Linked DNA regions of Homo sapiens: regions 1, 2 and 3 are each reported to be linked to region 4. Evidence: microRNA targets listed by miRTarBase, many of them from high-throughput screens and not tested one by one. Region 4 holds a microRNA gene; each other region holds the end of a gene's coding sequence.

What was found. The annotated mature microRNA hsa-miR-4460 reads AUAGUGGUUGUGAAUUUACCUU and lies in region 4 at 4,872-4,893, opposite strand. An mRNA with a match to its seed (bases 2 to 7 or 8) in the 3' UTR can be bound and repressed. Matches are read on the target gene's strand: a 7mer-m8 pairs with bases 2 to 8, a 7mer-A1 pairs with bases 2 to 7 and ends in A, and an 8mer does both.
Region 1: miRTarBase lists SYNPO2L as a target of hsa-miR-4460. Seed matches in the 3' UTR shown: 7mer-A1 at 1,883-1,889.
Region 2: the mRNA of SIRPA is a reported target of hsa-miR-4460. Seed matches in the 3' UTR shown: 7mer-m8 at 6,272-6,278.
Region 3: the mRNA of TIMELESS is a reported target of hsa-miR-4460. Seed matches in the 3' UTR shown: 7mer-A1 at 6,150-6,156.

What each region holds. Positions count from the first base shown.
Region 1 is chr10:73,639,778-73,647,892 of GRCh38, reverse strand. SYNPO2L (synaptopodin 2 like) reads left to right here. Exons shown (of 4, transcript NM_001114133.3): 4 at 1-3,007. The coding sequence ends at 1,175. It overlaps MYOZ1 (myozenin 1), which reads left to right and starts at 6,419. Exons shown (of 6, transcript NM_021245.4): 1 at 6,419-6,482; 2 at 7,858-7,948. The coding sequence starts at 7,876. RefSeq lists enhancers at 1-182, 3,746-3,795.
Region 2 is chr20:1,936,170-1,944,284 of GRCh38, reverse strand. It overlaps SIRPA (signal regulatory protein alpha), which reads right to left. Exons shown (of 8, transcript NM_001040023.2): 8 at 3,693-6,965. The coding sequence ends at 6,717. Among named protein-coding and RNA genes, the nearest start is that of PDYN-AS1, 7.0 kb to the left of the region's middle. RefSeq lists enhancers at 3,595-4,094, 4,095-4,596, 6,110-6,662, 6,663-7,217.
Region 3 is chr12:56,410,753-56,418,867 of GRCh38, forward strand. It overlaps TIMELESS (timeless circadian regulator), which reads right to left. Exons shown (of 29, transcript NM_003920.5): 27 at 7,382-7,607; 28 at 7,155-7,256; 29 at 5,611-7,034. The coding sequence ends at 6,964. Among named protein-coding and RNA genes, the nearest start is that of TIMELESS, 35 kb to the right of the region's middle.
Region 4 is chr5:129,392,244-129,400,358 of GRCh38, forward strand. It overlaps MIR4460 (microRNA 4460), which reads right to left and starts at 4,904; the gene lies at 4,819-4,904. It overlaps LOC102723654 (a long non-coding RNA gene), which reads left to right. Exons shown (of 8, transcript XR_001742463.2): 8 at 408-1,685. RefSeq lists an enhancer at 5,860-6,848.

The DNA of each region.
Region 1 (8,115 bases), not on the chromosome of region 4:
CTTTGCGACCCTCTGCGCGCCCAGAGGCGCCTGCCCCAGGCCCAGGGGCTCCTGAGCCCCCCAGCGCTCGCGAGCAGCGCATCTCTGTGCCAGCTGCCCGCACGGGTATCCTGCAGGAGGCCCGGCGCCGGGGGACCCGGAAGCAGATGTTCCGGCCGGGAAAGGAGGAGACGAAGAACTCGCCCAACCCCGAGCTGCTATCGCTGGTACAGAACCTGGATGAAAAGCCTCGGGCCGGGGGTGCAGAATCTGGTCCTGAAGAAGATGCTCTGAGCCTCGGGGCTGAAGCCTGCAACTTCATGCAGCCAGTAGGGGCCAGGAGTTACAAGACCCTGCCTCACGTGACACCTAAGACCCCCCCTCCAATGGCTCCCAAGACCCCGCCCCCTATGACTCCTAAGACTCCACCCCCAGTGGCTCCTAAGCCCCCATCTCGAGGGCTCCTTGATGGGCTCGTGAATGGGGCAGCCTCTTCGGCTGGAATCCCTGAGCCACCAAGGCTGCAGGGCAGGGGTGGGGAGCTGTTTGCTAAGCGGCAGAGCCGTGCGGACAGGTATGTGGTGGAAGGTACACCTGGTCCTGGTCTTGGCCCTCGGCCTAGAAGTCCTTCTCCTACCCCGTCTCTGCCCCCTTCCTGGAAATATTCACCCAACATCCGTGCCCCGCCTCCTATTGCTTACAACCCACTGCTCTCTCCCTTTTTCCCCCAGGCGGCCCGAACTCTCCCTAAGGCCCAATCCCAGGGGCCTCGGGCAACACCCAAGCAGGGCATCAAGGCTCTAGATTTTATGCGGCATCAGCCCTATCAACTTAAAACTGCCATGTTCTGTTTTGATGAGGTTCCCCCGACTCCTGGCCCTATCGCCTCAGGGTCCCCCAAAACTGCCCGAGTCCAGGAGATTCGCCGGTTTTCCACTCCGGCACCCCAGCCCACTGCAGAACCCCTGGCTCCCACTGTGCTTGCCCCCCGAGCAGCCACTACACTGGATGAGCCCATCTGGAGAACAGAACTGGCCTCAGCCCCTGTTCCTAGCCCAGCCCCTCCTCCAGAGGCTCCCAGGGGCCTTGGGGCTTCTCCCAGCTCCTGCGGTTTCCAGGTAGCCAGGCCCCGATTTTCAGCCACCAGAACAGGATTGCAAGCTCATGTGTGGAGGCCTGGGGCAGGGCACCAGTGAACAGGCACAGGTCCCAGGACCAAGGAGAGGTGGAACATCCAGTTCCTAAAGTTGCTTCTCCTACCCTATCCCATCCCCTGTCACGCATCTGGAAGCTAAATTGCCTCCTGCCAGAGATGGTTTCCAAGTTGATGTCCCCTTCCCCCACCTTCCTCCTCACTCTCTACCTCCCTGCCGCTTTCCAACCAAGTATGTCTGCTTTGGTATCTTTGCCTCTCTTTGTCTCTGCATTTCCTTTCCTGGATCTCTGTCTTTATTTCCAGGCTTCTCCACCCATATTCCTCCACAGATCTCTCTTCCTTGACATTTGTGCTTTTCTCCCTGGGCCTCATTTTAATGTTCAGTGAGAAGTAAACAGAGCAGAAGTGACCACTGGGACTTCAGGCAAGAAGCTCACCACCAGGCACACAGCAAAGGGACTGAACTGACCCCTGTTTGCACTAAGCCACCCCCACCCCCCACTCTGCTTTCCCAAGCTTGACTGGCATATACCTAGGCCTGTGTGTGTGTGTGTGTGTGTGTGTGTGTGTGTGTGTGTGCTCTTCCGTCTAAGGCATGAATAAGAGGGGAGGTCAAAATAAAGACCCAATCTGAGGCCGGGCACGGTGGCTCACGCCGGTAATCCCAGCACTTTGGGAGGCCGAGGCGGGCGGATCACGAGGTCAGGAGATCGAGACCATCCTGGCTAACACGGTGAAACCCCATTTCCACTAAAAATACAAAAAATTAGCTGGGCGTGGTGGCGAGCGCCTGTAGTCCCAGCTACTCGGGAGGCTGAGGCAGGAGAATGGCATGAACCTGGAAGGCGGAGCTTGCAGTGAGCTGAGATTGCGCCACTGCACTCCAGCCTGGGCGACGGAGCGAGACTCTGTCTCAAAACAAACAAACAAACAAAAGACCCAATCTGAGTCTTATCGTTGTACTGATAGAAGGGTCAGATATCCCCACATGGAGTTGAGTGGGAGAAAGAGATTCACTAGAGAATAACTCCTTAGAGACCAATGTCTGTAGCAGGTGTACAGCATCTTGTGAAAGTTATGGAGCATGAAAAGACTGAAGGGCCAGGACAGTTTGCATGGGCTGAGTTATACCAGCTAGACCAGGAATAGAACAAAGAATTCTATACCTCAGGATTTCAAAAAGTTAGCAACTTGAGAGGCCAGTGCTGAGCAACCCAGTACCCAGGAAATGAAAAAAAGAAAGAAAATTCCCTCCGAGAATGAACAAATCATTGGCTTCATTGCCTCATGAGCTTGAGAGAAAGGAGAAGAGAGCCAGAGTGTGGCAAGTGAGGCCAAAATCAGAAGCATGGCAGAAATGAGTGTAAGTGATTGAGCCACAGACAGAAGTGTGGCGAGGGACAATGCCATATTGGGAGAAGGTAAAGTTGAGTAACAAGAAACCAACCGTGTGTGAGAGGGGGATTGGAAAAAAATTTGAGGGAGAAGAATGTTAGAATGGAAGGGAATGATGGTGGAAGGGAGGTGTGAGGGTGTGTGCTGAGTGTTGAAAGAACGGTTGGTGTCTGTGTGATTTTCCTTGAGTCTGTTCTTCAGTGTGTCTTCTGCAGCTTGCCATGACTGCCTGGGAAAGAGTAGGGAAATACCCAGAGCCAAAACCTCCTTTCAGTCCCACCCCATCCCTCAAAACCCCAGCTATTGCTTCTTTTCAGCTTCAGGTCCTGATCTCCAATCTTAGTATGGACTCCCTTCTCACCAAGACCACCACCAGCTACGTTTGCTGTGTAATCTGGAAAGTGATAATTTCCTTTGCTTGTTGGGTGTGAGTCACAATACTTTGGTTTGTGCACAAGAATAAATTTATGCCCCATACCTTCTGTTGCTGTTATCTTCTAGTTTTATTCCTAAATCCTGATCTCTCCTTAATCTTCTTTAACCCATTCCCCTGATCTGATTTCTGATCTGTCTCTTTTCCTGCCCTCCCATTTTTCATCCTTTTGCCCTTTGTTCCCAGGTCTTTTGCTCTTTTATACAAATTCTGTCCTGCTTTGATTTAGCCACCTCCATCACTCTTCTTGGTTCCCTCTCCCCACAGTCTTCATCCAAGTTCTCCCCTTTCCCTCCCTTGCCTCATACTTTCTAGGTAAGGCTTCAGTTCACAGAACTCAGAGAAGTTGGAAAGGCCCTCTGAGCCCTTTGCTATCAACATTTCCTCGCTCCTTAGAGGAAGCAACCATATTAAACAGTCTCTGGGAAGTAAATGAAGAGAAAGCAATGGCTGGAGGGCTGGAGGGGAAGGTGGGATGGGAGAGGGAAGAATAAAGCTGAATTGAGACTACTAAAGAAGGGAGGGCGTTGGAGGTAGGTGAGAATTAGACTTCAGAGAAGGAAAGTGCCATTGCTCTGATTCTGCCAGCAGAGGGCACATTTGTGCCAATAATCAGACCCAGGCCGCAGACTCTTCCAAGTGCACTGTCTTAGAATTCCAAAAAAAGATCTCAGAGACCATAGGTTAAATAGCCTGTCTTCACCCACTCAGTCGTTTTGGGTACTCAGTTGAAGGAGATCAAACTTTCAGTTTGTTTTTGTTTTTGAGGGTGAGGGTGGTAGTGATGATGAAGTCACCTTTAGCTATTTATAGTTCTTCTTTTTTTTTGAGATGGAGTCTCCCTCTGTGGCTCAGGCTGGAGTGCAGTGGTGCGATCTCAGCTCACTGCAACCTCTGCCTCCTGGGTTCAAGTGATTCTCCTGCCTCAGCCTCCCAAGTAGCTGGGATTACAGGCACGCACCGCCATGCCTGACTAGTTTTTGTATTTTTAGTAGAGACTGGGTTTCACCATGTTGGCCAGGCTGGTCTTGAACTCCTGACCTCAAGTGATCCACCCACCTCGGCCTCCCAAAGTGCTGTGATTACAGGCATGAGCCACCACGCCCGGCCTATTTTATCTTCTAATTGCTTCCTTGGGTTGGGAGGGGATGGAGGAGGACAAAAGATGAGGGGTCTGGAGGCATAACTAGCCTGGGCAGAAGCCAACTGTGAGGGGATACCTTTTAGGGTCTCCACAGGATGGAAAAAGGACATGGTCAGGAAGAGTAAAGAGCTCAGAAGGGGACAAAGGAAGTTACAAAAGCCACTTCCTGGTGCGTGCCTGTAGTCCCAGCTACTCAGAGGCTGAGGTAGGAGGATCACTTGTGCCCAGGTGTTCAAGTCCAGCCTGGGCAACATAGTGAGACCCCCATCTCTAAAATAAAGAAAGAAATAATTTTTTAAAAAGCCAGCTAGGCACAGTGGCTCACGCCTATAATCCTAGCACTTTGGGAGGCTAAGACAGGAGGATTGCTTGAGCCCAGGTGTTTGAGACCAGCCTGGGAAACATAGTGAAACCCTGTCTCTACAAAACATATGAAAATTAGCTGGGCGTGGTGGCATGTACCAGCAGCCCTAGCTACCTGGGAGGCTGAGGTCGAAGGATTACCTGAGCCTGGGGAGGCTGAGGTTGCAGTGAGCCAAAATTGTGCCACTGCACTTCAGCACAGGCAACAGAGTGAGACCCTGTCTCAAATAAATAAATAAATAAATAAAGCCACTTCCTCAGGTAGCAGCAACAGGGTTGTGGTGGCTGCAGCAGAAGTGCTGCAGCAACTGGTTCCAGAATCTAAGCAGAAGGTGGAGGAAGATCATGCAGCTACTGAAGAAGGGCCTGGGGAAATGATAGGCTTTCCCCAAAGGGGCTTTCAAGCCTGTGGCCCTGCCCAGAGACTCCGCTGGAACAGTACAAATGGCACAGTCCAGATCCTATGTGGTATGTGCTCCCTTTGCAGGAAATCTCAAGTAGAAACCTCAGAGAGCCTGTAATCCCAGCACTTCGGGAGGCTGAGATGGATGGATCACGAGGTCAGGAGATCGAGACTATCCTGGCTAACACGGTGAAACCCCATCTCTACTAAAAATACAAAAAAAAATTTAGCCGGGCGTGTTGGTGGGCGCCTGTAGTCCCAGCTACTCGGGAGGCTGAGGCAGGAGAATGGCGTGAACCTGGGAGGTGGAGCTTGCAGTGAGCCGAGATTGCGCCACTGCACTCCAGCCTGGGCAACAGAGCGAGACTCCGTCTCAAAAAAAAAAAAAAAAAAGAAGAAGAAAAGAAACCTCAGAGAGCCTATATGTGCTTCTCAGGGAGACATCGATGTCTATCCCGCACAGCAGGTTGAACTGAGCATCTCAACAGCAAATGGAGGTTAAAAGGCAGATCCTGGCTGGGCGTGGTGGCTAGAGAATAACTCCTTAGAGACCAGATCCTGGCGGTGGCTCACGCCTGTAATTCCAACATTTTGCGAGGCCAATGTGGGTGGATCACCTGAGGTCAGGAGTTTGAGACCAGCCTGGCCAACGTGGTGAAACCCCGTCTCTACTAAAAATACAACAATTAGCCGGGCATGGTGGTGGACACCTGTAATCCCAGCTACTCAGTAGGCTGAGGCAGGAGAATTGCTTGAACCCAGGAGGTGGAGGTTGCAGTGAGCCGAGATCGCACCACTGCACTCCAGCCTGGGCAAAAAGAGCGAAACTCCATCTCAAAAAAAAAAAAAAAAAAATGCAGATCCAAGTGTTTGTCTTTTATTAAAACTGCCAGAGCTCAAGAGGAAAGAATAGGGAGTGAGGCAGACAGAATAATTGTCAAGTCTTCCCCACATCATTCCTTTGTAGGAGGTACTGGGTTTAGTTAATTTGGTCCCTTAACCTGCCAAGATCTAGCCCTTACCGAGAAAAGACCAACCTATCCAGGAACTTTAAAAGAGCAGTTCCACTGTGAAGACTTCCCTTTTTGTCCCCAAATATAGCACTTTAAGCCCTCCCTGCTCCAAATACACCCACAGGTCTCTCCACTCTGCCCTGGATTGGCTCTGTGTGGCCCTCAGGGCATGTTCCCCAGACTCTCTCTCTCTGACTGAATTCCTATCCAATACTTGCTGTCTACTTCCTGTCTCCCTCTCAGTCTTCAGTTTCTCCCTAAGTGCTTCTTTGGATCTCAGGCTCTAGGTGCAATGTGAAGGGGAGTCCCTGGGCAGACTGATCCCTGGCTCAGACAGTTCAGTGGGAGAATCCCAAAGGCCTTTTCCCTCCTTCCTGAGCCTCCGGGCAAGGAGGGAGGGATCTTGGTTCCAGGGTCTCAGTACCCCCTGTGCCATTTGAGCTGCTTGCGCTCATCATCTCTATTAATAACCAACTTCCCTCCCCCACTGCCAGTGCTGCCCCCACGCCTGCCCAGCTCGTGTTCTCCGGTCACAGCAGCTCAGTCCTCCAAAGCTGCTGGACCCCAGGGAGAGCTGACCACTGCCCGAGCAGCCGGTAAGTCTCCAGCTCTATCGTTAGAAAGGCTGGAGCCCACTGTGTTGACTTCTGTGTCTGTGTCTACAATTGTGATTCTTGATCCTGGGGGAGTCTCCCCTCTCCTCATCTATGCTCAGCTCCCAGCTGTCCAGTTGGAAGGAGAGGGGAAGGAGAGTTGGAAGGAGAGGGGCCCAGGAGGTTGGGGGGAATGGAGATGTCGGGGGAGGCACTGGAAGAATGGGAAGGGAGACCCCACTAAGTCAGTAGAGTTGCAGATGTATTTTTTGAGACAGGACTTAGAAGAGGACAGCATTTCACTGAGTGCCAACTTCTCTTAAGAAGGGATTGGAGTCCATCTTATCCCAGTTTGTCCCTTTCCATTGCCAGATCCTATTACTATGTTTCTGCCCCACCTCAATTCCCCACTGCTATGATATTGCTGAATTGACGTGTCGGGATTTGAATGCTCCCTACCCTTCCCAGTTCCACACCTGCCTCCACTCTGGGGTCTGTGGCGGGAGTGATTGCAGGAGCAGGGCCATGACTTCCCAGGCCATGTTCCAGCTGGCCTGATGAAGGAGCAACAACCTCTCCTTCCTATGGAGAGTGTTTTTGGCTGAATCTCCTCAACCCTGGCAGAATATTTCTCTGTCCTCCTGGGGACTGGGGGAAGACTGAGGAGAGACCAGAGCCTGGAATCACAGCCCCAGTCTGATATCCCAGTGCAAATAAAAACTTCAAATCATGCCAAGCCAATGAAACCTGGGTGCATTGCCCTGCTTGTGTTATTGTTTTTTAAACACTCCCCACACCTAGCTATGTTCCTAATTCCTGCACTGACTCTATGAAAAACAGCTCACAACAGGTTGGTAGACAACAGGGGCTGGTGTGCATCTATACTTCCTGTCCTGTATCCCAAGAAAAGAGAAGCCCTAAAGCGCAAGTTTTCACCTTTTGGGGAAATACATGCTTCTTTGAAAATCTGGGTCAGGTGAAGTGGCTCACCCCTGTAATCTCAGCACTTTGGGAGGCAGGAGGACTGCTTGAGCCCAGGAGTTTGAGACCAGCCTGGGCAACATGGCAAAACCACATTTCTACAAAAAATACAAAAATTAGCCAGGCACGGTGGTGCGCACCTATAGTCCCAGCTACTTGGGAGGCTGAAGTTGGAGGATCACCTGAGCCCAGGGAGGTTGAGGCTGCAGTGAGGCATGATTGTGCCATTGCACTCCAGCCTGGGCGACAGAGTGAGATCCTGTCTCTAAAAAAGAAAAAAAAATTTTTTTGTCCCCTCAAGCCCTTAAACCCAGGTTAAGAAGTGCTGCTCTCCTACAGACACTCACTCTTCCCAGTCCCTGTCCATCCACCAACTCCTCCTTCCCACCCTGTCCAGGCTGAATCCACCTCCACAATGCCGCTCTCAGGAACCCCGGCCCCTAATAAGAAGAGGAAATCCAGCAAGCTGATCATGGAACTCACTGGAGGTAGGACATGTTTGCATCTCCCTAGTGTGGGACTTCTTAAGAGCATCCCTAAACCAAGAGTCCCAGAAATATATATCTTAGGGTGAACAAACAAGAGAAATTAAGTGGTGGGAAGGCGGGTGATGGGGAGTGGGAGAGGGAAGATTAAGAAGGGTAAGGAGAAAGAG
Region 2 (8,115 bases), not on the chromosome of region 4:
CAAAAGAAGGCAGTGCTTCATCTCGTTGCCATACTGGGGCACGGTTTAAAAGCCCCACTGAAGGATTAGTTAGTTCTGTAGAAGAATATACCTGAGTTTGTCTTTCCTATTTGATTAAGGCCCAGATTGGGGCTAATTTGTAGACTTTTGTCTGGTGGGTGCAAATGGCTTCTGTCTGGCAGAAAAAAAATATCTCCAAAGATATGGCCTTATTGCCTTGTGGGACATTAACCGGATTGATCTCTAACTTGAAAATGTTATTCTCACCTTCCTTTTTCAAAGCCTCTAAGTGCCCATTTACTCTTGGAACCAGCTCTTGCCCCACTGCTGGCTCACTCATTAGTGTGTTAATTCTGCACTTGTACGTCATGTTTGTCACGCCCTTCTCAGCAGCGCTCATCCCTGCACTGGGATTGCCAGTGGCTCTGGTTCCCTCATATATGAGCTCATATGGGTGTGGTCCATTTTTTGTCCACATTGTGTCCTCAGAACTTTGCACAGGGCCAGGTTCCAGTAGGAGCTTGAGAAATAATTACTAGTTGAAAGATCTTGAACTTATTACCTCTCCACCTCTCTGAGCCTCAATTTTCTTCCCTGTGAAATTGACATTCCATTTGTAAAGAATGTGAAGGTTCCATGAAGTAAAGAATTCGAGTGTCCAGAGTCCAGCGTGGCACATGGTAGGCTTTAGTCTCCCTTATCCTAGGGGCTGAATCCCAAAGGTAGAGCGTGAAGTTCTGGTTTGGGAGCTCATGTCTGGTCAAGAGGACACCAAGTCACTGGAGGAATGACTCATGGTGGGGCTAGGGAAGTCAAAGGAGTTGCTATATAGTATTTCTTGGGAGAGGAAAATCAACCTGGCCAAGGAGTCCAGCAGGGGCTGGGGAGGAGCAGGAAATGTTCTTAAACAGGTCAGGTGGTGGTATAAGGCAGAGGACTCCGAAAACCAAGCTGGGGTGTTGCACCCCATACCCGAAAGGTTGGTAAGAGAGACCTATCTCAGGCTAATGAGAAAGAGAGGGACTTGATAAAATTATTCGTCAGAAGACCCACCATTGCAGCGATGCTCTAATAACCTGGCCTGATATGTGAGTGTGTGGGTGTGAATGTGTGTGTGTTTCTGTGCATATGTCGACTGCTGTCTGCACCACACTGCTGCAAAGAGTCTTAAATCTACTTTCTCATCGAACTCTCGCAAGAACCCCCGGAGGTGAAGGCTGCTACTATCCCTGTTTCACAGGTGACAAAGCAGAGGCCCAGTGGTGAATCTCTTTGCCCAAGGTCACAGGGCAAGGACTCTGGGGTGCAGTTGTATCCGATTCCAATGGGTGGAGGAGGAGGAAAAGTGATGGAAGGAATCTCAGGAGATGAAGTGATAACAGATAATGGCTTATGCTTGTAGCCATCCTTAATCTTTGTGCTGTTTAGCATCTTTCACTGTTTTCTGTGCTGTTTTGATCACGGGGATGTTCATCTTTCCAATGAACTCAGCGACACTCCTTGGGCCCCTCACTGGGGCCAGGCCCTGGGCTGGGTTCAGCTACCGAAGATAAGGTGTTGACACTAACTTTAAAAAATAGATTGGCCGGGGGTGGGGAGGGGCAGGCATCAAAGGTTGAGGGGGACAGGGCTGGGCATCTATCTTTTAAAAAATTCAAGGCATAACTTATATACAGGGAAATGCACCCATCTTAAATGTGCAGCTGGAAAGGTTTTTACATATGCAACCTCCCAGATAACCACGACTCAGGAAGACGTAGAGCATGTGCCACCCCAGGCTTCTCCTGGTCCTCCCTCCAAGGGCAGCCACTCTTCTGATCTCTGTTGCCAAGGTTTTGCCTGTTTTTGAACATCAGGAGCACGTCTTCTTAAAAAGCATCTTCAATGTCATAATCTTGTATTCAGAAAAGAAACCAAGAGCCTGGTCAGGCACAGTGAAGAGGGTGGTGAAGCGGGGTGGTGTCGGGGATCCCAGCAGTGGCAGGCTCAAGGGTGCCTCGGCTGGCTGGTGAGCAGCCAGGCAGCCATATCACCCTGATGTTCTGACACTTTGGTGGTGAGATGTGGTGTTTCTGGCTACTGACAGTGTCCAGTGTATCCTGAACATTATCTATGCCCCCCACTTTCTCACTATCAGCCCCAGCCCCCATCATATGCCCATTCAGTGCTGGACTAGACCATACCCACAGTGGCGTCACTTCCCGGATGGCGACCTTGGAGCAAAATGCTTAATCTCTCTGTGTTTCCATTTCTTTATTAAGTGGGGGATAATCATAGTACCTAACTCATAGGTTTGTTAAGAGAATAAAGTGAATTAATTTTAATAAATACTTGTCCAGAGTTTAGGAGAGTGTCTAATATGTAGTATGTGTTTATGCCAAAATTAAATAAACCTTCGTCAAAACTTGGCTGTTGGAAATGTGCTAGAAGACACATGGGCTTTTACAGTTGGGCATTCAAATCTTGGGGTTGGGGGCCAGTGGAGATTTTCCTGATTATCACGTAAAATGGGCAGGGGCTTCAGGTGGAAGGCAGAGGACTCTGGCCTGGTCCTCATGGAGGAAGGGAGTCTTAGCATTCTCCTTTGCACCAGGAGGAACCCCAAGGAGGTGTCCGATAAATGCCAAATGCTTGACTGATTTCCTGGAGGGCTGGAAAAGGGCCACTTAGCTCCCATCAACTTTCATTTCGCCTGCCAGCCTCCAGCCCTGGAGATTTGGCCGTGGAGAAGCAAGGCCCAGGTGCTGCATGAAATACACCCACCAAGTCTCCTTGTCTGGACACGCAGTCCATCATCCCCCACCTTCCCAGAGAATGGAAGGCATTTCCCCACCCACTCGGCCTGGATTCATGCCTTGAACACCCCATTCCTGCAAGCAGTGCACATATTTCATGGGTTGCTCCCGGAGGGAGGCGGAGAGCTGAACTCAGGCCACGGGCCAGGAAACTGCTGAGCTGTCTGTTACAGCCAAGGTCCTGGCCTGAGAGGAGGGTGACCTCTCTGAGCCCCGCAGAAGGCTCCTTGGTTCAGGTGGTCTCTGATCACATGGACCAGGCCAAGGGTGTAGGGATGATCCCCAGTGGGCTTGTGGATCTGAGTTCAAGTCTCAACTTGACTAAAGACTCTGCGTGAGATTGGTCATGTCACATGCACTTCCAGAACCTCATCTTTCCTTCTTTGCAAAATGGGCACAACCACAGCGATCTGATAGTCATGAGAATTAAATGAGGCAGTAAGTACAGTGTGGGGGAGAAGAGTCAGATTCCCTGGCTTCAAACTGCTCTGCCATGGGACATTGGAGAAATGACTTCTCCGTGTCTCAGTTTCCTTATCTGCAAAGCACAGAGAACAAGAGTTCCTCCCTCATGTAGCTGGGAGAAGGAAATGAGTTCTAACTGTGAAGCACGCGGCAGCACACTTGGCATAGCTGTTATTAGCTATCATGGTGGTTAATTTTGCAGTCAGTGGTCCATACATGACGTATTGATTATTAACCCAGTGGCTAAGCATCAGGCACTACAGTTATCCAGTTGGAACTGGAGGCTCAGTAACATCACTCATTAGCTGTGTGAACCTGTGTAAGTTGCACCCTCTCTCTGTGTCATCTACAGTCAGTAACATAATTGCCCTTGAGTCACAAGGTTTAAGAATTCATCAAGGTAAAGCGTTGACACATAGTAACCACTAAATATTAACATATTTATGCCTTAACTTTATTACATAATTAGCACTAATATCATTAATGATCTAATGGAGGGATAGAAAGGAAACTAACATTTATTGAGCACCCACTATAAACCAGCACTTGACATCAGTCATCTGGCAAGGATATTACAGGACAAGCATTAGATGTCTGCATTTGGTGGGGAAGGAAAGTGAGGCCCCAGGAGGAGGGTGAGCCGGGTGTCCGAGATCCCATCAGTGGTGAGAGGCCACGAGACTCAGCTATGCAGGGTCAGGGCAGGAAGGAAAGACACAAGCCTCAGTGATGGCCTACCCAGTGCCAAGCGTGGGCTCAGTGCTTCCAACCTCCTTGAATCCACACAGTCACCCTGGCAGGGACTATTCCTGCCCCATTGTGCCGACGCGGGGCCCAAGTCTCAAAGAGGTGCTGTTTGAACTCCCACAGCTACAAAGCAGCAGAGCCGAGATCCAAACTCAGTTGTCTATATGGAATTTTATCTCAACCTTACACCGGCTCCTTCTGAGCCAGGGCAAACAAAAATTGTACGTCTCTAAAACCTACGTGAGGGGCTCAAATGCTGTAGGTTGTTTCCAAACCCTGGGGTCCATTCAATCCTCTTCCAGGCTTTGGCAGGAGGGCAGGCAGGCCCCGAGGCGGCCCCGGGACGCACTCACAAAGACAAGAATACTGAACACCGGAAGGACTCATTATTACCCAGAAATCTTTATTACAAAAATATTTTGCAAGCCAAAAAGTTTAAGTTGCAACTATATACAAAATGGGGCCTGTTTCCTTCCCAGCAGTCTTAAAATAAACTCCTGAAACCATGCTCCTTCCGCAGGGTTGGTTCGACCTCTTCCTTTTCCTGGGGTTCAATACACAAGGTATGTGGATTCTCCAGGTTGCCAGGCTAAAGCTAAAGCTATACATCTTCCTTGGCCTTATTCCCTTATTTCCCCCTCCAAGAATTAAAAAATAAAATAAAATGAAAATGGCACCAAGAAAACATTCTTTTAAAATACTGAATGTGTGTGTGCATGCGTGTGCACACGTATGTGCTGTCTCTGGGTAAAAGAGAGGGAGACGAAGGTTTACAAGCCAATCTTTTGGAATTTGGAACTAGCCTGAGCCAGGTGGCTGGGTCACTGTGGCTCCCAGATGCCACACGGGAGCTCTGGCCAAAGCTGTCCACATGGTCTGTTGGCTCAGCTAATTCCTGGATGCCATCATTGAAATCACCAGGTGACCATCCCCCAGAGAGCTGGGTCTATGCTGAGCTCCTGCAGTTTCACCTGTAGGACCTCCAGGAATGGGCAGGATGGCTCAGCTACTTTTACAGCCTGAGCCAGAAATCCCTTGGGCATCCCAAGGCCAGGAGTCATGAACATTAGCGTCTCAACTCTAAGAGTTATAGTGAAGACTGAATAAATAGGGCTTGCGACATCTGCTTGCCCTGGGCCCGGTCAGGCCCTCACACCCGACTGGAAGGGTGGGGGTTAAAGGGTAACTGGGTCACACCCTCTGGCCAACCTTCTGGGACAGAGGGGGAATCAGCCCGAGCTTCACAGCTGCACCATCCCCCTGGCTGTCTTCAATTTATTCCAGTTTGATCCCAGTAGGGTTTGAGAGCAGAAATGGAAGATTTCTTCTTCAAGGATCAGCTCAGAAAGCCGGGATGGGGGCGGTCACTAAAGGGGTAGGATAGACGGCCAGGGCCACTATCCCTACCCTCTGTGTGTTCCTAAAGTGCTTATGAGAGGTGGTGGGGAGGGGTGTCATCTTCACTATCCCCACTTTACGGATGAGCAGACTGAGGCATTGGGTCTCGATAAGACTGCACTGTCAAGAGGCAGCCCTCAGCAGCCCTGGGCAGGCTGGACTTACCACAGCGGGGTCACAGAAGGCTGCACTACCAGCCGCGTGGCTCAGCTGAGAACATGGCCAAGTCAGTCCCAGCCAGAAGGCTGTGTCTCCAGGGAGTGGCTGACCTGATCCTTCTTGCCCATTCTTGGGGTTCTGGGACTTGGAGGAACTCAAGTCTTCGCTGTAAGAAAATCCCTCCAGGACAACAAACTGTTAAACCTCAGACTTCACAAGACCCAACCATGGACTTCAACACATGACAGACAGCCAAGATCACGTTGCTGTTGTTTTAAGAAAAAAAACAAAACAAAACACCACAGATCAAGTTTTCTAACACCTCAGTTTCAAGATTGCACGTTTCACATTTCTCAGTAATTTACAGGCGTCCACAGCGAGATGTTGCTTAGTGCTAGCTGGAGGGGCAAGCTCAGGTCTAGAAGGGAGAGATGGGTCCGGGTGGAGCAACACAGTTGGGCCCCAGGGAGTCTTGGAGGGACCCAAGGAAGCAGAGGGTTTTGTCTCCAGTCCTTTGGGAGGGGTCCTCTCCTCCTCCAGGACTCATGGCTCTTTAGCCTAGGGATGGGGGAGGCCAGGACTGTTGGCAGCAACCTCACCAAGCCTGGATATGGGTTCCAGAGTTTTTTTCCAGCTTTTCCATGGAAGGGGCAGTTTGATCTAAAGGGGAAATCTTCCCCACTCTAGCCCCAGTTGGGTGGTGGTGGTAGTGGTGGTGGTGGTGGTGGTGGTGGTGGTGGAGGTGGTGGAGGTCAGGGGAGGTGGGATTTTCTCCTCCCCACCCTGGAAGATCAGGCTTCGGAGCATCGGGGAGGCAGTCGAGGGTCTTCAAAACCCACATGGTGATGGACGGAGGCACAAGAGTTCTTGGACCCCAGGCAGTTCTGGCCACTTCCCAGGTTGGTTCCCTGGCTGGTTTGGCAACGTCAGCCTCCAGGTATGTGGCAATGTGGGGGGAGGGGGCCGTGGCTGCCCAGGAAGTGCTGGAGAGCCAAGGAGGGGTGGGGAGAGAAGAGCCACCCTGGCCCCTGGGTCCCAGAGCCTGCACCGCCCCAGCCCTCCGGGAACTGGGTTGGCTGTGCTCATCACGGCGGCTCCCTGTGGGACAAGAAAGCGCGTAGAGATGGGTGCTAGAGCAAACCACGGTCCCATTCACTTCCTCGGGACCTGGACGCTGGCGTACTCTGAGAAGGACGGCTCAGGCTTGGGGGCCGGCTGCTTGGGGGTCCGGTTGAGGTGGACCATGTCCAGGTCAGCATAGGTGAGGGTGTCCTCCGACGCGGGCTGCGGGCTGGTCTGAATGCTGGCATACTCCGTGTGGTTGTTGGGCTCCGCAGCCTGGGGAGCAGGCTTCTTCCCCTTGGGCAGGTTCAGGTCTGCATATGTGATATCATTTGTGTCCTGGATTTAAGATACCCAAAGAGAAAGTCATGAGAAGGTCATTCTATAGCCCCTGGCCCACTCACTCAAACTGAATACCAAGTCTGGATGCTTCTGTGTCCTCTCGGCCCACACTGGCTCAGCCATAAGTCATGTTCCCCTCATCTCTTGCCAACGTTACTTGCCTCCAGCCTTGCCCCTTCCCATCTGCCCTCCTCCTCACCCTGCCTGAAGGGTCTTTCTGACCCGCACAGTGCAGTCTCCTCACAGCCCCGCCTCAGTGTCACCTCCTCCCGTTCCTGCCTCCTCCTAGCCTGAACCACCTGCAGTCTTCACCCATTTCTCATGTTCATCCCTCGAGGGTGTCTGTCCTGCTTCTCCTTGTAACAAATCCCAATCCACCATGTAAATTTCAGATGAAGCATGGCTCATACTAAGACCCTCCCTGGCTCTCCCCTCTCCTGGCAGGGTCCATGTTCCTTCTTTGTGCTTCCTCAGCCCATGTTTGTTTTCCATCACAGGGCCCGCTACCCAGGACCATGTCTGTTTGGGGGCCTGAGGAGGTGCTGCTGATGGTGGTACGTGTGGGGACATTCATTAATGTATGCGTTTATTCCACAAATATTCACTGGGCATTTGTTATGATTCAGAAACCAAGGCTGGCACATAAGAAGTCTGATCCATATTGAATGAATATATGAGTGGATGGCAATAATTTCACCTTCACTCAGGGCAAAGCTGGGGACAGGGAGACAGAGAACAGGGGCAGTATAAGAACGAGATCGCCAGTTAGTGAAGCGGGAAACGTTCTGGAGTCAGAAAGCCTGGGTTTGAATCCTGGTTCTAGCTCAGGGATTTTGAGCAATTCACTTAACCTCTCTGGGCCTCAGTTTCTCCATCTGTAAAGAGGGGATGATAATAGTGTCTACTGCCAGGGTTGCTGTGAGGATGGAATGAGATTATCCAGGTAAAGCGTTTAGAACAGAGCCTGGTACCTATTGAGCATCTGTCTTCAATAAATGTTCGCAATCATTAACCACTTAGCAAACTTGGATACCTCCCATGTGCTAATCCTATCAACCTGCCACTGCCGCCTCAAAAGCGCCCATCATGAATGATAAACTTTGCTCCCTCTGTGACTGGCCCCTGCGTGATAGAACAGAATAAAGCT
Region 3 (8,115 bases), not on the chromosome of region 4:
TGAAGAGACACCTGGCTCCTGCACCTGGGAGGGTAGCTGCAGCGGCACCCGGGAAGGTAGATCCTGCTTGCTCCTGGCCCTCCCACAACAGCACAGAGAGGCTCCAGTCTACAGCTGCGGTTTGGGTGGCTGTAGCCCAGCCCAGGAGGGTGGGGGTCCTGCCTGCTTCATAGAGCAGGAGGCCTGGATCTGCAGCTGCAGTTTAGGCAGCTGCAGCGGCACCCCAGGAGCTCCCATCCCAACTCAGAAGGGACAGGGTTCCCAATGGCTCCATGGAGTTTGCAGCCCCAGCTGCACAGTTGGCATGATGGCAGCAGCCTCTGCCACCACCAGCACTTTGGGAGGCTAAGGCAGGAGGATCATTTGAGCCCAGGAGTACAAGACTAGCCTGAGCAAGATGGTGAGATCCCATCTCTACAAACATAAACAAAAATTTAAAAATTAAAAATTAGCCAGGCATGGGTGCCTGTAGTCCTGCTACTTGGGAGGCTGAGATGGGAGGATAGCTTGAGCCCAGGAGTTTGAGGCTGCAGTGAGCTATGATCACATCACCACACTGTAGCCTAGGTGACAAAGAGAAACCCAGTCTCTATTTAAAAATAATAATAACAGAACTAAAAGAAAAAAATAGATAAATCCAATATTATAGTTGGTGACTTTAACACGCTTCTTTCAACAACTGATAGACTTACTACGTACAAAGTCAGCAAGAATATAGAAGAACTTAACAATATCATCAACCCATCTAATTGACATTTATAGAATACTCCAACAGCAGAATGCACATTCTCAAGTACCTATAGAACACTCACCAAGGTATACCATATCTGGGCCATAGAAGAAACCTCAACACATTTAAAATAATTGTTTTTTTTTTTTTTTTTTTTTTTTGGTTAAGAGACAGGGTGTTGCTCTATTGCTCAGGCTGGAGTGCAGTGACACAATCATAGCTCACTGTAACCTCAAACTCCAGGGCTCAAGAGATCCTCCTGCCTCAGCCAACATGTCTGGCTGATGTTTGAAATTCTTTGTGGAGACAAGATCCCATTATGTTGCCCAGGCTGGTCTCAAACTCCTGGGGTAAAGGGATACTCCCACCTCAGCCCCTCAAAGTACTGGCATTATTGGCATGAGCCACCACATCTGGCCAGCACGTTTTTTAATCATTGTATTTTTCATCATTGTGTATCCTGTGGATATCAGGTGATGTTTATTTTGGATTCTGAACACCACATATACAGCTTGCCAAAAAATTAGAATTCATCCCTTCTATTCCTATCCAATTTTCTTATAGCACAAAACTCCCAGCCCCAGGTTCTAAGCTATGGCTCTTCAGCGAGACTCACCTCTAGCAGAGAGAACTACCTCTGACCCATTGGCCTTGTCTGACCAGTTCTATCTGAGCAGCATAGTACAAAGCTGTGCCAGTTTATAGTAGTGTCATGGGATTCTTGGGATGTCACTTTTCCAGCTGGAAACCTCTGTGGCCAGTGGTGCCTTTGCCCAAGTGTTGCTCGGGCTCACTGTGTTTGTTCCACCCACTTGGCCTGGCAGGCTGTGCTCTGCTTGTGCTACTGGCCTGGATTCCATGCCTGCCATGGGTGAACCAGATGTGCAGCAGCAAGGGGTGTGTGAGCATGGGGTCTGGCCACACTGTGCACAGCCAGGCATGCCGGCTGCAGCAGACAGGGAGCTCCAGGCACCGGCTCCATGTGAGGTTGTGGCTGGACCAGACATACTGCAAGCAGCTTCCACTGCAGGCACCAGGGAATGCGGTGGCACCTGGGAGCTTGGAGACACCAGGAACCACAGAGCCCCAAAGAGGGTGTCATAGCCCTGGCTCTGGGAGCCCCTGGGTCTGGGCTTCTCAAAGAGCCACAGCTCTTCTCTTCTTCTAGTCGCCCACATAGTGGCAAGCAGTGGAGTGACAGGGCCGGGCGGGGGGGGGCGGCAGGCGTGTTTCAGCCCTGTTTGTGTTACAGCTCTTTCAGTTCCACCATTCCTTGGGTCCTGAGTTCTTGTCCATATCCAGGAAGAATGAGGTACACAGACAACTGGAGGGCAGGGCAGAGAGGAGCTTCATTGAGCGACACAGCAGCCCTCAGGAGACTGGCAGTGAGTAGCTCCTTTCCACATGCAGGTCGATTCAATGTCTCTGTGAGTGGCTGAGTCCAAGGTTTTCATGGGCTTCAGAAGGGAGGAAGTGCATGCTGATTGGGCCATGGATGGCCCAGAATAAGCATCATGAGTTCTCATTCTGGGCGATGGACTCCACCCAGAAGTGACAGTCCGGCACCCAGGCTTCAGGCTGTCCCTGGCTTAAAGGTGGTACTTCACTGGACCTGCACCTTTCCACCCAGGAGCCTGCCTTCTGCCACCATCAATAATGTCATCCACGGGACCCAAGCTGTTCCTGCTGAGGGGCACTTGCAGACCCCTGCCAAGTCACCCTTGGCTCCCCCTCAGCCCCTCTCCCATGCTTGTCAGTGTACAAAGTTTAGAGGGGGCCAAGGTGGCAGGGGGCTGGTGTGTCAGCACCGCCAGGAGGGTGTGCACACATGGCCAGGTCACAACAGTGCTGGGCTTGGCCTCAACTTTGCTCTAAAAACAGAGTGGGAAGAGGCTAGGCAGTGGGAGCATGCACTTCTGAGTCTGCGGGGGCAGTGAGGCTTCGTAGGCCCCTAAGAGCATAGGGATGCCTGGATCCACAGCTGTGGCTGTGCTGCTGTAGCTGCACCCAGGAGGGTGGGGACCCGCCAACTTGAAAGGGGGCGGGGCTCCTGCCTGTTCCTGGCTCTCCCTGGTTCTGTGGAGCATGCAGCCCTCACCACACCTCCCCAGCCGCAGCTGGCGTCTTTGCAGTGACCACTCCAGATGGGCTGCCACTGCCAGGAGTAGGTTCCCACTCCTGGCAAAAACTGGAACACATTGTGCTCAGGATATTCCTGCCCCTGCTCACAGTACTCAGTGGGAAAGACACATCTGGCTTTTCCTGGGTCTGATTGAAGCCCGTCTTAACACCTGCAGAACAGAGGCCATGGTATCACCTGGCATGCTCCTCCTTATGCCACTGAAATTCCAGAATCCTTGGAGCTGGTGTGTATGGGACTATGTGGCTTTCACACATCCCACCCTGTATAGCCAAATCTTCAGGGCCTGGCATCAAGTTTAGGAGTCAGCCTGCTCCAGGGCTTTCCTTAGTGCCGGGCCTACTAGATCCTGGGTAGAGAGGACATATGGAAGACACCAGGCAGGAACTTTGGAAGCCAGGTCTGGCAGAACCAGGGCTCTGCAAATACGAAGCAAGGGACATCAGGGCCTTAGTTTGGGTTCCATATGAAATGGCAGCCAGAGTGTGTGCAACATGTAGCAGTAAATGATCAGCTGAAGTGGGAGTTAGAAAACAGACCGTTTCACTCACCCATTACCTCCAGGCTTGTGTTCATTTTAGGTTAAAGCCCAGTTACATAGGAAATGGTACCGCACTGATCTTATTTGACTTCTCCTATTCCCTGGTCACCAGGGCCTTCCTCTGCTTCACTTTCTACTTAAATATTTGAGAGCACCAAATTACCAGAGGGTAGTCAGTGAGAGGTGGGCTTTCCCAGGTAGGTTATTCCAGTCCCAGTTCTCTGTCTCATGAGAGGGGACAGTTGCTTGTCTCTAAGGTCAGTAAGGGCACAATTTTGGCAAACATTTGCCTATTTGCCCTGTGGTGTTCTGCTCAGATCTCCCTTCAAGAGAACACAGAGTGAACATTCTATTTGGCCGACAGCTTCCACTCTTTAGAATGTTCTGCAGTGATCACAGCAGCATCCCTCTCTACAGGCTGCTCTGAGACAATGACAGGTGGACAGTGCTAGAGCCCAGCCAAGTCGGCCAGACATGGGACTCCTCAGTCATGTAATCTTCATTCTGGGGCTCTGTATCAACTTGGCCAAGATTTTCTGAGTAGCACTGTAATTTTTCTCTTTCTCCCTTTCATACATGTGTGACTGTCATCGTGATCTATAGGTTCTCCCAATCTATACCTGAATTGATATGTACTGACTAATCAGAGCTTGTTTAGGTGTCAGAAATGCCGCAAAAGCAGTATCTACCTCTTGCTCCCACATTCCCAGCTTAATCCAAGAGACCCAGAATAAGGAGAAATCAGACGGCTGTGATTCAAATATGTAAGAAATAGCTTTTTACTCCTCTTCTCATTTAAAAATTTCCAAAGGGTAAATAAACGGAAAAGGACAAAAATACCTCTTGTGCCTAATAAATAGTAAATTTTCTTTTTTTTTTTTCTTTTTTTGAGACGGAGTCTCGCTCTGTCACCCAGGCTGGAGTGCAGTGGTGCGATCTCAGCTCACTGCAACCTCTGCCTCTTGGGTTCACGCCATTCTCCTGCCTCAGTCTCCTGAGTAGCTGGGCTACAGGTGCCCGCCACCATGCCTGGCTATTTTTTATATTTTTAGTAGAGATGGGGTTTCACCGTGTTAGCCAGTGTCTCGATCTCCTGACCTTGTCATTCTCCCATCTCGGCCTCCCAAAGTGCTGGGATTACAGGTGTGAGCCACCATGCCCGGCCAATACATAGTAAATTTTCTATACTGATAAACACTGCTAGAAGAAACTGGAGCTGGAAATTTCAAAGAGGGATGGAAAGTCAGGGTCCAGTTCTGGACATTTCTTAGAAAGGCAGCCACGGCCGGATGCGGTGGCTCATGCCTGTAATCACGCCACCGGCTCATGCGGTGGCTCAAGCACTTTGGGAGGCTGAGGTGGGAGGATCATTTGAGGTCAGGAGTTCCAGACCAGCCTGGTCAACATGATGAACCCCCATCTTTACTAAAAATACAAAAATTAGCCAGGTGTGGTGGTGCATGCTTGTAATCCCAGCTACTCAGGAGGCTGAGGCAGGAGAATTGTTTGAACCCAGGAGCCAGAGGTTGCAGTGAACTGATACTGCGCCACTGCACTCCAGCCCGGGTGACAGAGTGAGATTCCATCACAAAAAAGAAAAAAAAAAAAAAAAAAGGCAGCTGCTAGGCCGAGCACGGTGGCTCACGCTTGTAATCCCAGCACTTTGGGAGGCCAAGGCAGGCGGATCACCTTCGGTCAGGAGTTCAAGACCAGCCTGGCCAACGTGGTGAAATCCTGTCTCTACTAAAAATACAAAAAATTTGCGGGGCGTGGTGGCTCGTACCTGTAATTTCAGCTACTTGGGAAGCCGAGGCAAGAGAATCACTTGAACCTGGCAGGCAGAGGCTGCAGCGAGCCGAGATCATGCTGCCACACTCCAGCCTGGGTGACAGAGCGAGACTTCGTCTCCAAAAAAAAAAAAAAAAAAAAAGGCAGATACTGGGGACAGCAGGACACAGCAAAGGAGCAGCACAGCCCGGATCATGGAGGGAAAACAGAGCAGCCCTGCTGGAAGGAAGCAGTGCTCAGGTTGCGAAGTGAAGAAAAGCTCAGGATGAAGAGACACCAAGACTGGCCAGAGCTAGAAAGTGTCTAGCCCTTGGAAACTTCAATTACCATGGAAATAGCTTCACTCCCACTTTTAGAGGCTATGGGAGATCCTCATCTTTTCAGGAAAAAATAAAAATGAAAAGTCAAAGCAACAGGGCAATCCAAATCCATCCTTTACTTAGAAGCCTTCCTGAGCTGAATGGCTATTTTCTCAATCTCACCTTTGCCCTACCTCGGCTGGAAGCACAGGAAGCAAGAAAGCTGACGTTTCCAAGAATGGGTAAGAACATAATATTTGCAGTATTTATCCATCCTTTTCATGCCTAGATTTTGTCCTTTTCTATGCCCCATGCCAACAAGCTGGCTTCTCTTCCTTTATGGCTCCTCCTTCTTCCTGCCGCATACTCTTGTCACCCTAAGAATTTACCCTAGACAAAAGGATCTAGAGGCAAAAATGCTTTTCTGTGTCTTCTGTAGGGAAAGCGGAAGAAAAGGGAAGGTTGTTGGTCTTTTTTTTTTTTCTTTTTTTTTGAGACAGAGTCTTGCTCTGTCGCCCAGGCATATGCACTGGCGTGACCTTAGCTCACTGCAACCTCTGCCTCCTGGGTTCAGGCAATTCTCCTGCCTCAGCCACCCGAGTGGCTGGGATTACAGGCGCATGCCACCATGGCCGGCTAATTTTTGTATTTTTAGTGGAGATGGGATTTCGCCATATTGTCCAGGCCGGTCTCAAACTCCTGACCTCAGGTGATCCGCCCGCCTCAGCCTCCCAAAGTGCTAGGACAACAGGTTTGAGCCACTGTGCCGGTCTGTTGGTCTCTTTTTACCCTAAAATTGTTAAGTTCTTCTTTCAAGAGCACAGCAGGGGAAGGGCTGGGGAACTTAGACATATCGCCAAGTCAGACTGAGATGAGAACTTCTAATCTTACATGTTTAATACCAAACACAAAGCAAACACATTCATCATCTAGAGTACTATATTCCAACCCTATCTCAAATGCAGGAATGGGCCTCTATCTGGTATCTAGAGGATGATCATAGGAAACAAAATGAGGACAGAGGCATCTGGTATCTTCTAAAAGTGGTACAAAACTCCCGCCTGTCATGTCATAAAGCTCCCCATCTGGTGCTGCGACCCACCTCCAAGAGAAAGCCAAAGGAACAGACCAATAAAAGGGGTCCGGGGTGCTTTCTCTATTTCACTCACTCCTCTTATTTGCTAAGGAGCTCCAATAACCAAAAGAAATGGTTCCTAGAAGAAGAGAACTAAATCTCCAGAGAGCTGCTGGGGCATACCGATAAAAACTGGGAGAAACAAAGACTGACAGCAGAGAAGTCCAATACTGCTGCTGAAGTTTCTCAGCCTAAATCCGTGAAAGAGCCTGGGATTCTACTGCTCTGTCCAGTAAGAGGAGCTTCTGGGTCCTGTATGACCCTTCCAACTCTGACTTGAATGCACCATCTAAAAACGTGTCTATCTCTACCCCTAGGCTTCTTAGCTCTTCAGTCATCCTCATCATCCTCAATCTGGTATCGTTTCTTCTTTTGGATTCCTGGAGCTCCCAACTCTGGTGCTGTGGGAACGATGGGGGTGAGAGAGAGAGAGAATATCTAAATATGTTAAGGGGTAAGGACGTGGTAGAGTTTGTCTTCAGGATTAGAGAAGAAAAAGAAGGTCCCATCAAATTCCCTACCTCTGTTCCTGCCCTCATCTTCTTCCTGTTCCTCGTCGCTGTCCAGCAATTGTCGTTTCTTGGGTGCTGCCTTCAGCGGCTCTTTACCAACAGCGTCTTCCTCTGCAATGACCATAAATGACACAAAATTAGGAACTCGGTCCTCATATTCTCAGAACACCTTTCCTGCCCTCTAGACCAACATGGCTGACACGTTAATACTCAGAAGATGGCTGTCGCACTATTACCCTCTGGGGATGCCAGGCCCGCTTTCTTCTTGTGGGCTAGCAAGAGGGCCCTCAGGGCTTGTGCTCGGTGCTCTTTACAGTGCTCCTCATCAGAGCCTTGCTCTCCAGGGACTTTAGGCTGCAGCTCTGGCTGCAGCTTCTGTTCCTCCTCTGGTTGACTCAAAGAAGCTGCTGCCCTCCGGAGCTGGGTAGGACTCAGCTTGGCTGGAATTCGCCAGAAGGTTTCCTACAGGGGCCAAAAAGTTGAAAAGGGAAAGGACCAGCTTTTTGTTTCCCAGAGTATGATATTCATTGAATATATATGACCCAATATTGGTGAAGATCCACAAGGGTTGTGAACTCTATTTATTATAATACTTACTATCTAATATATACCCAGTGCCTAGCACAGTGCCTGCTACATTAGGAGGTTCCCAGTTATAGGTTTTTTTGGTTGTTCTTTTTTTTTTTTTTTTTTTAAATGAGAAGGGGTCTGCCTCTGTCACTCAGGCTGAAGTGCAGTGGCACAATCATGGTCCACTGTAGTCTCGATCTCTTGGGATCAAGCTATCCTCCTGCCTCAGCCTCTCAAGTAGCCAGGACCACAGGGGTGCATGCCACCATGATGCCCAACTACTTAAAATTTTTTGTAGAGACAGGGTCTTGCTGTGTTGCCCAGGCCAGTCTCAAACGATCCTCCCACCTCAGCCTCCCAAAGTGCTGGGATTACAGGCATGAGCCACTACACCTGGCTA
Region 4 (8,115 bases):
ATTTGTATAATCTAAGTTTTATAATTTCATGATGCTATCCATGTGTACAGAAAGATATATGATCACTGTGCTGGTAAACTAAGATTCCTTGAATAAATATTAATATTTTTAAAGACTCCTTTAAACCAGTAATAGGAACTCTGAACTCCTGAGTCCTGGGGTTTTGATTTTGTCACAGAATTTTCTTTCTTAAAAGGCAGTATGGCAAGTATGAGAATGTTACACTTTCATTGCATCCAGTCTTTTTTTATCCTATTGTGAAGAAGTGTCCTGTAATTCCAGATGAAGCTCAGTTTTTATATCAGCCATTTTTTAAGAAAGAGAACTATACTCTGGATCCTCGAGTGAAAGTGTTAGGCTTAAGTAATTTAGTCTTTTTTTTCTCCTAAATGTGCTTGCTTCATTAGGTTTCAGAAGAAACTACCTTAATGAAGAAACAGAAGGGAAAGACGTGAAAACCTCCAGAGTTCTTCAGAAAGGCTTCCTTTGCATAGAATCGTTCATCAATTTCAACAGTAACAGAAAGTAACGGAAACGTGATCTGAATGAGTAGCTGAAAATTGAGTAGTAACTTAACACTCCATTGAAGTTTTTCATCAGATATGGGGCACAGCTTGACCCTCGTATTATAAATATTTAAATGCTTTGGATATTTTGCCAAAGTTTAAGCATTTCTTCCCAAAGGAACAGTGGTGATATAATGTGAGTCATGCTAAAGTACTTAACCATCAGTGGGCAGATTTTGTGGCATGAATTTTTGTAATGATTTTAAGTAAGACCCGGTATATTCACAAATATCCAAAACTTTATTTAGAACTGTATGGGAAGCTATTCTATCTAAAAGCTCATTCTTATTAAAAGTATTTTTTCAGGAAATAAAATGATGTTAAACCTGGAAGTCTCCAGCAAAGAGACTGATTTTTTTTTAGATGCTCCCAACTCAGTAAATTTTGCTTTCCTATTTTCTTATTTTTGTACGTATGCCACTGATGTCTAGCTTATACACTTCTGTTATATTTACAGCTGTTTACAACCATTGAACCAAAAGTTCTATACCTGTTGAATGTCTAAAAGTAGAGAAAATTAATTGAAAAGCAATAGGTTAAGAATCAACCTGTGGTCCCAAGAAAAAGAAGTAAAATCCTATAAAATTCTTAAAGCATTTCCTCTATAAATATTTGAAAGTTATTTAATCTTTTGGTCTTTATAGTGCCTGGATTGACATTCTGCATTAACTATGGAATCATTTTTATAAGGAATATTTTGTGATTTGTATAAGAAAAAGTATTTCTCAATGGCATAGGAAGAGCTTTGCTAACTCTTAGAAGAAAGAGGGAAGAGAAGAGGGAAGGAAACAAGTAAAACGAACTGGTGGTACATCGTGTATTAAGAGATAATACAAGGATATCATACTATAATGTTTTCAGACAAAAATTATGGACAGGCTAATTCGTGAAATAAGATGAAGACCTAAAAGGTAGCAATGATCCTATACACTATACTCTGTAACAGTTGTTTTCAAACTGCTTTTTAAACATAAAAACAATTTTAAATCCACTATTTTAGCACATTCTGGTCTTATATAGTAATTACATGGCTATATTTTTCCAGTGTGACATATTTAAAATACATATCATTAAATTTCTGGTTAATCTTAAACATGGAAATAAAGTACGAAATTTCTAGTTGTTGAAGTATGTTTAAAATAAAATATATTAAAATATCATTATTTCAGTCAATAATTTAAAGTAAATGGGGGTATATTTGTGTACGTACATATATGCATATATGTGTGAATGCACAGAAATACAAACATGTCTATATAAGGATCTATACTGCTCTAAATTTTTAAAACACAGAAGAAAAAAAAACTAAGATGTATTTTTATGACTTTTTAGTCAACTATAGGGAATTCTTCAATTGTCCAGAACTCCTTCCTCTTTTTAAGGCCAAAGGATCATTACCTTCTTTTATCCACATTAAAAAAGAAAATCAACTTAATCTCTAAATGAATATTAAATTGATTTCCTCTTAAAGCTGACATCTGTTTAACATAAGCTAATTCCAGAGGGCTAAAAGAATTATAAGCCAAAAATGAAACCCTAAGTCTCCCCAGGTGGCTGAACAGACTCGCTCTGTGCCAAGGGAACCTCAGAGAAACCTGAAAAACTGAATTCCTACCCATGACTAGAAGGGACATCAGACATGCCTCATTATATCCCATTCCTTTGGAGTTAGTACAAAATTGACCAACATTAACATTAAAACAGAGGTCGGCTGGGCGCAGTGGCTCATGCCCGTAATCCCAGCATTTTGAGAGGCCGAGGCTGGCGGATCACGAGGTCAGGAGATCCTGGATAACACGGTGAAACCCCGTCTTAACTAAAAACTCAAAAAATTAGCCGGGCGTGGTGGCAGGTGCCTGTAGTCCCAGCTACTCGGAGGGCTGAGGCAGGAGAATGGCGTGAACCCGGGAGGCGGAGCTTGCATGAGCCGAGATCACGCCACTGCACTCTAGCCTGGGTGTCAGAGCGAGACTCCATCTCAAAAAAACAACAACAAAAAAACCGTACGACTGACCGAACAAACTCGAGCTTGATGCTGGTATAGCTTCATGTGACAAATAGCATACTCTGAATAAATTTGAAATATTTTACCCCAAAATATTTCTTTGACATATTTTGAAATGGCCCTGGGAGAAATTTTTATCTGTACAGAATTACCATTCATGTAGCCAGACCTGTCATGGATCTAGGAGAGATTAAGAGTGTGATACCGGCGGGGGAAAGGGGCTTATCTCAGCACTTTGGGAGACTGAGGTGGGGGAATCACCAGGTCAGGAGTTCGAGACCAGCCTGACCAACATGGTGAAACCCTGTCTTTACAAAAAATACAAAAAATTAGCTAAGTGTGGTGGCAGGTACCTGTAATCCCAGCTACTTGGGAGGCTGAGGCAGGAGATTGCTTGAACCTGAGAGGTGGAGATTGCAGTGAGCCAAGATCGCGCCACTGCACTCCAGCCCAGGCGACAGTGCAAGACTCAGTCTCAAAAATAAATAAATAAAAAATAAGAGTGTGATACCTTTTAAGGTGTGAAAATAGACATTTGCCATCTATTATCTCTAAAGGCTCTCTCTTCTCTCTAAAGCCTACAACCTAGAGGCTTCATCTACATAACAAAGATCTTAGCTTCCACAACCCCCCTTATCTTAGCTCAGGCATTTCTTTCTATGACTTCAAGTCTTTAGACAAAGCTTAACTGTCAACCAATTGCCGATGAGAAAATCTTTGAATCCACGTATAACCTGTAGGCCCCCACTTTGAGATGTCCTGCTTTTCTGGGCTAAACCAATGCGTATCTTACATGTATTGATTTATATCTTTGCCTATCACTCCTATCTCCCTAAAATGTATAGAATCAAACTGTAATCCAACTGCCTCAGGCACACTTTCTCAGGACCTCTTGAGATCACTCATATTGGCTCAGAATAAGCCTCTTTAAATATTTTAGAGTTTGTCAACAAAATTAAAAGAGCAAAGAACTGTATGTGTGGTAAGAAATCTCTTCCCTGTTTTTCTATATTTTTGAATTGACTTCTCCAAGTATGTTGCAGAGTACCTGTCCCATATGTAAAGCCACGATGGTTAGCAGTAGCTCTAACGTACTGCTATGACCCAGGGTCATCCAAGTGTCTCAATTTTTATTTTCTTAGCTTTTTAAAATTGTTACCTACTGCATTCCAGAGTGTTCTTAGAGTTAACTCACAGAAATAAGCATTTAAAAATTTCCCATGCATTATCATGGCTCAAGATATTATCATAAATCTTTTTGCCTTATTATTATTGTATTGTCTTACATATCCTTACTTCCCTATTTACTCCTGGAGTTTGAGTAAACTCCAGGTTCCAAAGTTGTTATTATCCCTCTACTGTCACAAAATCAGAGTGTCCAATTCTAGTTGCTGTAACTTCACCTATTTTCCAGATATCACCACAAACAGATCTTTTGTCCAGAAGGAACAGGTATAGAGAAACAGAGGCACTTCTATAAAATAGATAACCGTATTATCCCATTTTGTCACAAATCAGCCACATGTAGCCACTTGGTGTGCAGCAGTCTCAACTAAGTTGTCATTGTACTTATCATCTAGAAGCATGTCAGTCCAACATGAGAAGCCAGGTAACCAAACCAGAATTAAATTTAAATTCCTTAGGTACTCTTTTGGCCAGACTACCATCTGGAGATTGTACCAACCAACTGGGTCTGGGGTTGCTGTTAGGGGAAAGAGAAAATCATCATATCCAGAAATAGATCAGAATCTTGAACATCCCAAATAAATTAATAAAACCCTCATTTCTTCCTGATTTTTTTTTTAGCCAGGAAGTGGCCAGAGGAGATTATCCCTTTTTGTAAACAGCCACATTAAGTAAACAAACTGCTTTATGAAACTATGAGGATCAGTAGAAAGTGAGAGAGGTAGAGTCAGAAATCTTTTTGAGTTGATATTTAAAACCTGTTCCAATGTTCAAGAATCCCAGATACCAGTAGGTGGTAGAGGAGAATGGGGAATCCACTGAATGATTTGACGGCCAGGCCATTGTTGAGCTGCCTTTGCAGTAAAACACGCATTATTAAAGCAAAAGGTCAAGAAAGCCAAAAATATGACACAAGATTAGCTTCAAGAACCTCAATGCTGTGTCTGCAGTTAGCTGATTAGACAGGAACAGGAACAGCAATGTTGTTGCCTAAAACTGGGGTCAACACTGGTGAGACAACGCAGCAAACCTCTATCCAGCAAGGTTCTGAAGATTCACCTGGTTTCTGCCCACAGTGGTTGTGAATTTACCTCCTTTATCACTGCAAAGAGGAGAAGGTAAATTCACAACCACTATGGGCAAAAAACAGTGCCTCTCTGTGAGAGTTGTCTGTTAATTCTTATCAAGGTGAATCAGAAGAGATGACAACATTCGTTTGTTTATCTCTTCTTCATAGTGTCATGGTACCTTTGACATTATTCAGTGTCTTAAACCAGAGAATGTCTAATGTTGGAATTTTAAGTAGGGCAGAAAATCTACATATTTGCTCTACCAAGTGTATTAGTCTGTTCTCACACTGCTATAAAGAACTGCTTGAGACTGGGTAATTTATAAAGAAAAGAGGTTTGACTCACAGTTCCACATGGCTAGGGAGGCCTCAGGAAGTTTGCAATCATGGCAGAAGGGGAAGCAGGCACGTCTTACATGCCAGCAGGTAAGAGAACATGTGAACCAAGCAAAGGGGGAAGAGCCCCTTACAAAACCGTCATACCTTGTCATACCTTGTGAGAACTTACTATCATGAGAAGGGCATGGGGGAAACTGACGCCGACCTCCCCCACCCCACCCATGATCCAAACACCTCCCACCACGTCCCTCCCTCAACACCTGGGGATTACAATTAGAGATGAGATTTGGGTAGGGGCACAAAGCCAAACTGTATCACCACAGTACTGTCAAATAATGACAAGTTTGCAACCGTTTCTATGTGGGGCCAATTATGATAGAAAATGTTACTGCCTTTGCTGCTTTATCTGATAAGTATAAGCAATAGTATCACCATTTGTCATAATAATACACAGACTGAACATTTGTAAGATACTTCACATTTTACAAAGCAACTTTCATGTTACGATTTTATCCACCTTCTTAAACACCCCAAAGGAAGGTAATATTTCTTCTAACAAATGAAAATATGTGGCTTATTCATTATTCAACCTCAAAGCAGCAAAACCAACATAGAAACTGGGGTCTTTGATACAGAAATCTGGTGTTTGTGCAGAGCTGTCATTAAAGCTTTCCTCCTAGAAGGAAAGTATGACTAAGGTCTTTTGTTTTGTATATGTTGAGATCTTGCCATGCAGCTTGTAAATGTTCACAAAAAGCATGGGGAGTTTTGATACTTAATTACAAGATTGGGTCAACTAATATAAAGCCCTGGATTCTCAAGTTCTCATTAGATACTTTTGATGTTGGAGGTTATTGTGTGTGCCAGTGGATGCAGAAGGTTGATTTGGCCCAGCCTGTCATTCCCCCCTCAAGCCCCCCAATTACCTGGATGATGTATTGGTAGAATAGGCAATGCTACTGAAGAATTCTTTCATCTGAGAGTGAAGATGAAAACAAACCAACACATTCTCCCTGCATTGTTCACTAGCTTTTTGTTTTATCCTCCTAAGGTTTGATGTTTGATAATGAATAAATTAGGATAAAATGTGAATGCACCCTCTGTAAGGACCCAGCGGGAAACATTGGCTGTTGAGCCAGATCTCAATCAGCAAATGAAAGGGGTTCATTTTGGCATCAAGACCAGGCCTGTGAAGTCTGCATATTTAGAAGAAATTCAAGATGAAAAAGGAAATATGTGTGCATGATGTTTATGTGTATGCAAGAGAGATAGACTTAGAAAAGTTTCAATTTTATGGAAACATCACAAACGAGATAAGCAACTTAATTTCCTTATTATATAATTTATATATAAAAAATTCATCATTTCACTATTGTTGATTAAAGTGGCATATTTTACTAGCGCACATAATGTTTTACCATTTGGAGGCTGAACATCTTTTGAAACTCATACACATCTGTAAAATACCTACATCGTTGGCATAAACTGTTGCTCATCTTCATGGAGACAACTTGAGCCTGATTTAAAAAAATTGTATGGAAACTGGTTTTATATGGAATAACATGAACAGTCATGAAATTGGTGTTAATACTTCTTCTTCTTTAGTATGATATTTAGATCTGCTTCTCTCTTCCTGGTCTATATGCATTCCTTCTTTCAAAGGTTGTGATATATTGTTATTCTAAGGACAGTGCCCTAAGGAATTTAATTACATTAATTTAAAGCCAGGATCTGAGGCTAACAGCACTCATACCTCAGATAGTATGTGGTCTGATGCTGTTACCTTTCTCCTCATACCTGCCCTCCACAAAGAGCTGTCACATGACTTTGGCACCTCCCAATTCTTCCCCCTGTCACTCAGCTTTTAGACAGAAGCTGGCTTTTTTCTGTAGTCCTTTCTTCACCTAGCGCATGCCTGAAGCCTGGAAGCTTTGCTGCAGGCTTAAATTCTTAAGTATGTAAGAGGTTATAGCCATTCGAGGAAAAATACCAAATAGGCAAATATGTTTTTCTGGCATGTTCTCCCTCTTCCCATATTATTTCAGACTCTAGGACCTGCTACGAAATGAGCCTTGAGGAAAGGATGTGCTGCTGGTGGGCAGACACTCATTTTTTATATATACACTCATTTTTTGTATGTATGCATTACCTGTTACTTCTTCTGGGCTCATTTAAACAGTGAACTCTCTTTTAATTGTATCACTTCAAACTGAATTTCTAAATGAAAAAAATCTGAGAGTCTAGCTAGCATGTTAGATGGATATTTTGGGTGGCAAAGACACTTTCCCAAATAACCTATCACAGATGATGTCTCATGCAACACTTGTATGTAATATGCAATGAAGACATTGTTCCTTTGGAAAGTAACTCAAGATCTTGTACCCTGAGGCTGCTACTGTAGTTTTGTTTCAGGCCTTGAATACACAGCCTTAAGTCTTGTCCTCATTTATTTTATGTGATAAGTGACCTGGCTCGAAGCAGGATCAACTCATTTTTAAATAGAGGCAAAAAGGAACATATAGAGAAATATACGTGGCAGGTTCATTACATTATATGGACATCACAACAATAACATTTTTTTCTTTCAATCTGTAATTAGATAAATTTTCTCTTTTGAAAACATGAAAAAGGAAGATGTAGATAAGGCAGCTAACTTTTGAAATAGCCTGGTCAAATGACATTTTAAAAAGAAATTAAGGTTTTTCTATTCCTTTGAGAAAATTTTTATACTTAAGAATTTTAATAATTAGGATTTCTTAAAGGGACAGGAAATGTAACACAAGATATAATGCTATGTATTATACATTCAGTGAGATTAAAAATACACTGAATTAAAAGTACTTTTCTTTTGTGTTATATCTGACTGTGATTGACATTCAATATATTTACTTAAATTTTTCCCTTGACCTCTTTTCTTCTCATTTCCTTTTTCTTTATGACTATAAAGCTGA